2 linked regions of the Homo sapiens genome follow. The protein of the gene in region 1 purifies or fractionates together with the protein of each later gene. This does not show direct contact. Each region holds a gene or a part of one and is shown on either strand. Other genes may lie near its edges.

Region 1 (3,656 bases):
TAGAATTCTACAGATTGAGTATAAAAAGAAATGCAATATATACAAAAATATGAATGTGAAAATACACAAACTGGGGAACTCAACTGTGTGGTTTTAAAAAAAAAATCGACCTTCATATAGATCTAGAAAATCATAATCCTTACTCCTAACAAAAAACAAAATCCAAGAGTCAAAAGGAAGTGAAAAATAGTGATCTTATGACTTGTGGGCTCAGTCCTATATCCACAACATATAACTATATGCCTTCAAAGAGCCAGGTAAGCCTTTGAGGCAAGAATTGCCATGTTTCAAGGAGATAGCTAAAACATTTATATGAATGTTCAAAGAAAAGAAATCTACTTACCTTCGAACATACTGTCTGGTCTTGCAAAATAAACATATTCAAAGATACAAAAAGCCACTGGGTTTCCTTCAGACCTTGATATAATATCAAGAGTTTGGACATTGTGTCTGGATATTTCCACAATTTCTCCAGGCAAGACTTCACGGTAATATCTTGGGAAACAATGTTAAAGAAAGAAGACTTTTAATAAACTAGTCCTTAAGGCTGATGAAAATATTAATTATAAAGCACACAGAGTACCTTCCCTTAGAGAAACAATTGATTCATTCAATATAAAATCTAGAAGTGACTTTTTAAAGTGGTATGTCTCCTGCAATGATTTCTTTATAATCTCTCTGTAAACACTAAGTTCTAGTATAGAATTAAAAAATTAAGGGCCCTAAGTTGTATTGAATTTTAAAAGAATAAAGTATAAAGAAAACATTTTCTCCTGGCTTACATTTTTCTGTCATAACTATCTCTCATTGAGGAAGTTCTTCCTTTCTAAAATAAGTCTCTATTTTCATATTGTACTGTAAAAAGAGAAAAATATACAAAATAAAGAAAATAAGTTTCATAGTATCTTGAAAGAATGCCAGCTTCAGAATTAGAAGCTATTACTAGAACATTAAACTCAGTGCAACTGCTGAGCATAACATGCATAAGAAAAACCATTTATAAATATTTTCTTGCAGACATCAAAAAGAAAACTTTCAAACTTTCACATAAATAAGAAACTGTCTAAAAAAAATTCTTTTCAACATGGGAAAATAAAATATGTCAAACAAGGTAAAACTTACCTTGCACCAATAGATAAGAAGCTACAAGATTCTGAAGACACCACCCATCCTTCTGTTTCTGATGTTTTTTTCTCTGTAAATCACAAATCAATTCAATTAATGGATTCCAGAAATTTTAAGAGGCTATTTCAATGGAACAGCTAACACTAAATAAATAAGTAAATAAAACTCATAGAATAGCCATTTCTATGACTTTAAGAGCACATGGATCCTCATTTGACTTGAGCCAAAGATAAAATAAATGATCTTCTAAGATTCCTTCTAACATTATGATTTCATGGCTAGAAAAAGATATCTTGATAAAAGTGAAAAGAAACCACTAAAATCATACTGCAGAAATGAAAAAGCTAGGCAAAGGACATGAATAGCCAATTAAGACAGGAAAAAATAGGAATCTCTATTAAAAACATTAAAAGGGATTCATCCAGCCAGGCGTGGTGGCTCACGCCTGTAATCCCAGCACTTTGGGAGGCTAAGGTGGGCAGATCACCTGAGGTCAGGAGTTTGAGACCAGCCTGACCAACATGGAGAAACCCTGTCTCTACTAAAAATACAAAATTAGCTGGGTATGGTGGTGTGCGCCTGTAATCCCAGCTACTCGGGAGGCTGAGGTAGGAGAATCACTTGAACCTGGGAGGTGGAGGTTGCAGTGAGCTGAGATCGCACCACTGCACTCCAGCAGCCTGGGCAACAAGAGTGAAACTCGGTCTCCAAAAAAAAAAAAAAAAAAAAAAAAAAAAGGGGGGGGACTCATCCTCAGGAGTACTCAAAGAAACGTACTTTAAAAAGGAAGAATACATTTATTTTTATTTTTCTTACCTAGCTCCCTCCCACCCATCAACTTTCTATACCTAAAGATTTCAGGGCTTGATAGCAGTAGGACAATAATGGAAAAACACTATGAAATGATATTCCTTCTAAAGTTTATTACCTTTGTCATTTATATCAGACACTGGAATAAGACGACCAATGCATAAGGGACGATTTCCATAAGGATCTCGTACTGCATAAATAACATCTCTGTGCATTATAAGCAGGGAGTATGCTGTGGGTGCTTCCTTCATCAAGTTTTTAATCCTGGAATTAATTAAATAATTGAATGAATAACTTCAGTTATAAACATATGCAAGGCAAAACTCTCCTTACTAGAGCTCTAAGTTTAGTCCAGTTCTCTGCTTACCTGGCTACCCAGTCTGGGGTGTCATCTTGTTCCTGAGGAGGGGTATACGCCAGTAACTGGGTAATCATTTCACTATCAGAACTTGTAGACAGACCAATACCATGACGCAGAAGCTATATAGAAAAAAAGAGAAGTTTAATCATCAGAGGGGAAGCTCCACCCCACCCCAAACCCAGTAGCCAACCATAATGAAAATAAGGCATTCTGTGGATGTCCAGTTACAAAAATCCTGCATCCCACTAATGCAGCAGTCCCCAACCTTTTTGGCACCAGGGACCAGTTTGGTGGAAGACAATTTTTCCATGGACCAGGGACAGGGGATGATTTGGGGATGATTCAAGCGAATTACATTTATTGTGCACTTTATTTCTATTATTACTATACTGTAATATATAATGAAATAATTATACAACTCACCATAATCTAGAATCAGTGGGAGCCCTGAGCTTGTTTTCCTGCAACTAGACAGTCCCATCTGGGGGTGATGGGAGACAGTAACAGATCATCAGGCATTATACATTAGCTTCTCATAAGGAGAGCACAACCTGGATCCCTTGCATGCACAGCTCACAACAGGGTTCATGCTCCTAGGAGAATCTAATGCTGCTGCTGATCTGGACAGGAGACAGAGCTCAGGTGGTAATAGTGAGCGATGGGGAGCACCTATAAATACAGATGAAGTTTCACTTACCACTCACCTCCTGCTGTGTGGCCTGGTTCCTAACAAGCCACAGACTGGTACTAGTCCCTAGCACAGGGGTTGGGGACTCCTGCGCTAATAGTATGTATATACTAATAACGGATGACCATGGCTGGAGGCAATAGGAAATCTAGAAGATTTTCAAGCAGGAAAAATGTGCTTTATGAGATGTACAGAAAAGCTTTTGAATACTAAATCTGAAGGCAAGCAGACCTGAAAGTGGGTAGGGGTTCCCAAAAATTTGATTTGTGGGTCTGACATTTTCTACCCTCAACACTCTTGATGAACTGGGTATATTCCTATAAAAGTAGTACACTACAGTGATAACTTTCAAGCTGGGTTTGTTAGTGATCATAATGGTGGCTACCCATCCTCATTGATTATTACTGATAGAAGAAAGTAATCAACTGTATTGAACAATGAAATGTAGCAGATGTAATAAATATCGCTTGAGTGTACTCTATGATAATTACAAAGTTCTGAGCAGGACTGACCAAGACAAGGGCAGCCCCATGGACATGCACAGATTGAGTCTGAATGGGCACTACAGAACATTTTCAGTAGGGAGCTAAAGGTAAAGATAAAGTTTAGCATCTAGGTAAGTCATTATGTCAGGAAACAGTGAGTTAGTGGTTATCTCTAAGTGGTGAATTT
Region 2 (3,369 bases), on another chromosome or scaffold:
CTGGCAAGTCACCCTTCCCGAGACAGCCCACCTTCAGGCCCGTGATGTGCGCAATCATGTACGTGAGCAGGGCGTAGCTGGCGATGTTGAAAGGCACACCGAGGCCCATGTCTCCCGATCTCTGGTACAGCTGGCAGGACAGCTCACTGTTCACCACATAGAACTGGCAGAGGGCATGGCATGGAGGCAGCGCCATCAGAGGAAGATCTGAGGAACCAGCAGAGGAAGATAAGGAGGGATGGTGGTTTGAAAGACCACAGCTAAAGGCAAAGTAAAACAGGAGAGAAACAGAAGCCAACTCATATGGTGGAGACCAGGAGAGAGAGCCACTGGGCTGCAGTGATGTCCATAACAGCCTCTGCAGCGATGGCACGGAGCTGAGGGAGACTATCCATCGGTGCAAGGTTTCTGCAGGTGTCCATTTACGGCTGAAGCAATGCTCTTCCATCAGAGCTGAAGGGATCTGGGCTACCTCGTGGCACCAGATTACAAATACAGCAGGAATAATTCTGTTTGCCACAGGAAACTGGTGCTTCTGGTACACCCTCCTATATTAAAAGTCTCTATTACATGGCCAGGCACAGTGGCTCATGCCTGAAATCCCAACACTGGGACGCCAGGGTGGGCAGATCACTTGAGGCCAACTTGAGTTCGAGACTAGCCTGGCCAACATAGTGAAACCCCGTCTCTGCTAAAAATACAAAAATTCGCGCGCCTGTGGTCCCAGCTCTGGGGCTGAGGAATGGGAACTCACTTGAACCTGGGAGATGGAGGTTGCCGTGAGCGGAGATCACACCACTGCACTCCAGCCTGGGCAACAGGGTGAGACTGTGTCTCAAAAAAAAAAAAAAAATAAGTCTCTATTACAGATGCAAGTATTTCACTCTAAGTACTTATGATATCCTGATAGAGTTTTGTTGTTGTTGTTGTTTTTAAATATTCAGGGTCTCACTCTGTTGCCCAGGCTGGAGTGCAATGGCGTGATCATGACTCACTACAGCCTCAAATTCCTGGGTTCAAATGATCCTCTCGCCTTGGCCTCTGGAGTTGTTGGAATTACAGGTGTGAGCCACCACACCTGGCTCTACACCCTGGTAGAGTTGAATTTTACAATATAATTGTTAAAAATGTTAGTGAGGTGGCAGCGAGCTGGAACTTCATCTGCTTCCATTTAAAATGTTAACATCTTACATGTAGTTTCTAGGCAATTTAAAACCCTTTTTGGTGTAAGAATGAGTATAAATACACAAATTAAGATCATCTGGTTGGGAGGCTGAGGCAGGCAGATCATCTGAGGTCAGGAGTTCAAGACCAGCCTGACCAACATGGTGAAACCCCGTCTCTACTAAAAATACAAAATTAGCCGGGCATGGTGGCACATGCCTGTAATCCCAGCTACTTGGGAGGCTGAGGCAGGAGAATCACTCGAACCCAGGAGGCAGAGGTTACAGTGAGCCAAGATCACGCCGTTGCATTCCAGCCTGGGCAACAGAGCAAAACTCTGTCTCAAAAAAAAAAAAAAAAAAAAAAAATCCTCTGGGCCCAACCTCATGATCTGAAGGTGAAAGTGCAGCAAAATGTGACTTGCCCAACGTCACACAATCAACCATGTGGCTGGGGGAAGTTCCCAGGGTCCTGCCTCCCTCAGGTGCCTCTGCACAAAACCAGATTGCTTCCCTCTAAGAGTATGGTTAGTATAAATGAAGACGACGGGGTTCTTTCAACCTCTTGGATTCCAAGCGCACATGATGATTCTTCTGTCGTCAGGGTTGGTTTTGATGGTGTCAATCACTCTTTGCAGTTGGTCAACTCCCTGTCCTGAATAATCTGTAGAATTGTCAAAAAGAGAGGACAGGTACATACATTAATCACACATGTCATGAGATGGCCTTAGAGGTCATCTATTACAGTCTCTTACCCAGGGTCCCCCCTTGACCCATGGCTACAAGACATCTGGTGCATCCTGCAAAGTTTGCAGATCTCGGTGGGTTGAGTTCAAGGCCCTGTCTGACTCCTGGCTCTGTCCTCTGGAGCCCTAACAAAGTCTTTTTCCTCTTCTACACAGTCCTTTGAATATTTGGTCTGTCATGGAGTCACCTCCTCCTGTTCCCCCCATAGCTAACCCTTTCCAATCTCAACAATCTTAATTTCTTCCAGTGCTCCTCGCAAACTTAGGCTCTAAACCCATCAGCGATTCTTGTCACAATTTCACTGACAAAATCTACTTTATCCTTGTCTCACAGAGAGTGTTGTATCTTATGTAGAATATAGTATTCCATATACTTTCCAACTAACAGAGGACCATGGATTCCTTTCTATCACCTCAGCAGCATGTTTCCAACACTTCCACCTAAAATTACTTTAGAGTTTAGCAGCTCAACACACGACTGACTTGGAAACATCAGGAAACCTCTGTAATGATTACACCACCTTGTACTTTGCTCCCATTTCTGGTCTCTGGATTTTAATCCCTTTCCTTCCTTCTGAGATGGAACTGGAAGCTGAGAAGTGATTTGTTAACTGAAGTGCAGAGCTTCATAATCTCCTTTGGTTAAATTTCTACCTATTAGTGTCAGACTATATTCTGGTTCAGTAGTTCTCAAAATTTTGGGAGGAAAGTCCTCTCATGGTCACTGTTCCGAAAAAGGTAACATCAAAGATTTTAAAAAGATGAACCTTGGTAGTGTAGTTCTGTAACTTGATTGTAGTGGTTACAAGAGTCTACACGTGCTAAAATTGCAAATACACACATACACAAGTGCACGTAAAACTAGCAAAATCTGACAACTCTGAGGAATGCACCAATGTGAATGTATACAGGATGTTACCCAAGATATTATCACTGGGGGAAACTGGGTAGTGTGTCCAGGGAAACTTTCTGTGCATTAAAAAAAAAAAAAAAAAAATTCCTGTGAATCTGTAAAACAAAATTAAAAACAAAAAGGGACAAACTTTCCTACTAAAATCCAACAGCTAAGCATTCATACCACTGTAAACTAAAACCATAATTTTATTAGGCCTTTTAAGCGACAAGAAATAATTGAATACTAGGCAGGATTTAAAGCATCATTAAGCCCGGGGACTGGCCTCACATCCTACGGACACCCTACAACTGAGGTGCAGGCAACGACCTGCAGAACACTTACCTGCACAAGTAACTTGGCCCACGCAGCAGCTTTTTTCATTGTGATAAAGTACACATAATATTAAACTTGCCATTTTTGTGTGCAATTCAGAAGCATTAAGCACGTTCCTGATGTTAGGCAACCATCACCATCACCCATCTCCATCACCATCACCATCACCATCACCATCACCATCACCATCTCCATCACCATCACCATCTCCATCACCATCACCATCACCATC

What was found. Proteins that work in one complex are often made in the same cells at the same time.
Region 2: the proteins of PPAT (region 1) and TYMS fractionate together in Homo sapiens (co-fractionation; one large-scale study listed by BioGRID). This does not show direct contact.

What each region holds. Positions count from the first base shown.
Region 1 is NC_000004.12:56,400,987-56,404,642, forward strand, and holds part of PPAT (amidophosphoribosyltransferase), read right to left. Parts: intron 2,416-3,656; coding exon 2,303-2,415; intron 2,200-2,302; coding exon 2,054-2,199; intron 1,196-2,053; coding exon 1,123-1,195; intron 496-1,122; coding exon 344-495; intron 1-343. UniProt on the Homo sapiens protein: Catalyzes the formation of phosphoribosylamine from phosphoribosylpyrophosphate (PRPP) and glutamine.
Region 2 is NC_000018.10:667,530-670,898, reverse strand, and holds part of TYMS (thymidylate synthase), read right to left. Parts: exon of another isoform or gene 3,220-3,369; coding exon of another isoform or gene 3,147-3,219; intron 1,828-3,146; coding exon 1,726-1,827; intron 582-1,725; exon of another isoform or gene 208-581; coding exon 32-207; exon of another isoform or gene 1-31. UniProt on the Homo sapiens protein: Catalyzes the reductive methylation of 2'-deoxyuridine 5'-monophosphate (dUMP) to thymidine 5'-monophosphate (dTMP), using the cosubstrate, 5,10- methylenetetrahydrofolate (CH2H4folate) as a 1-carbon donor and reductant and contributes to the de novo mitochondrial thymidylate biosynthesis pathway.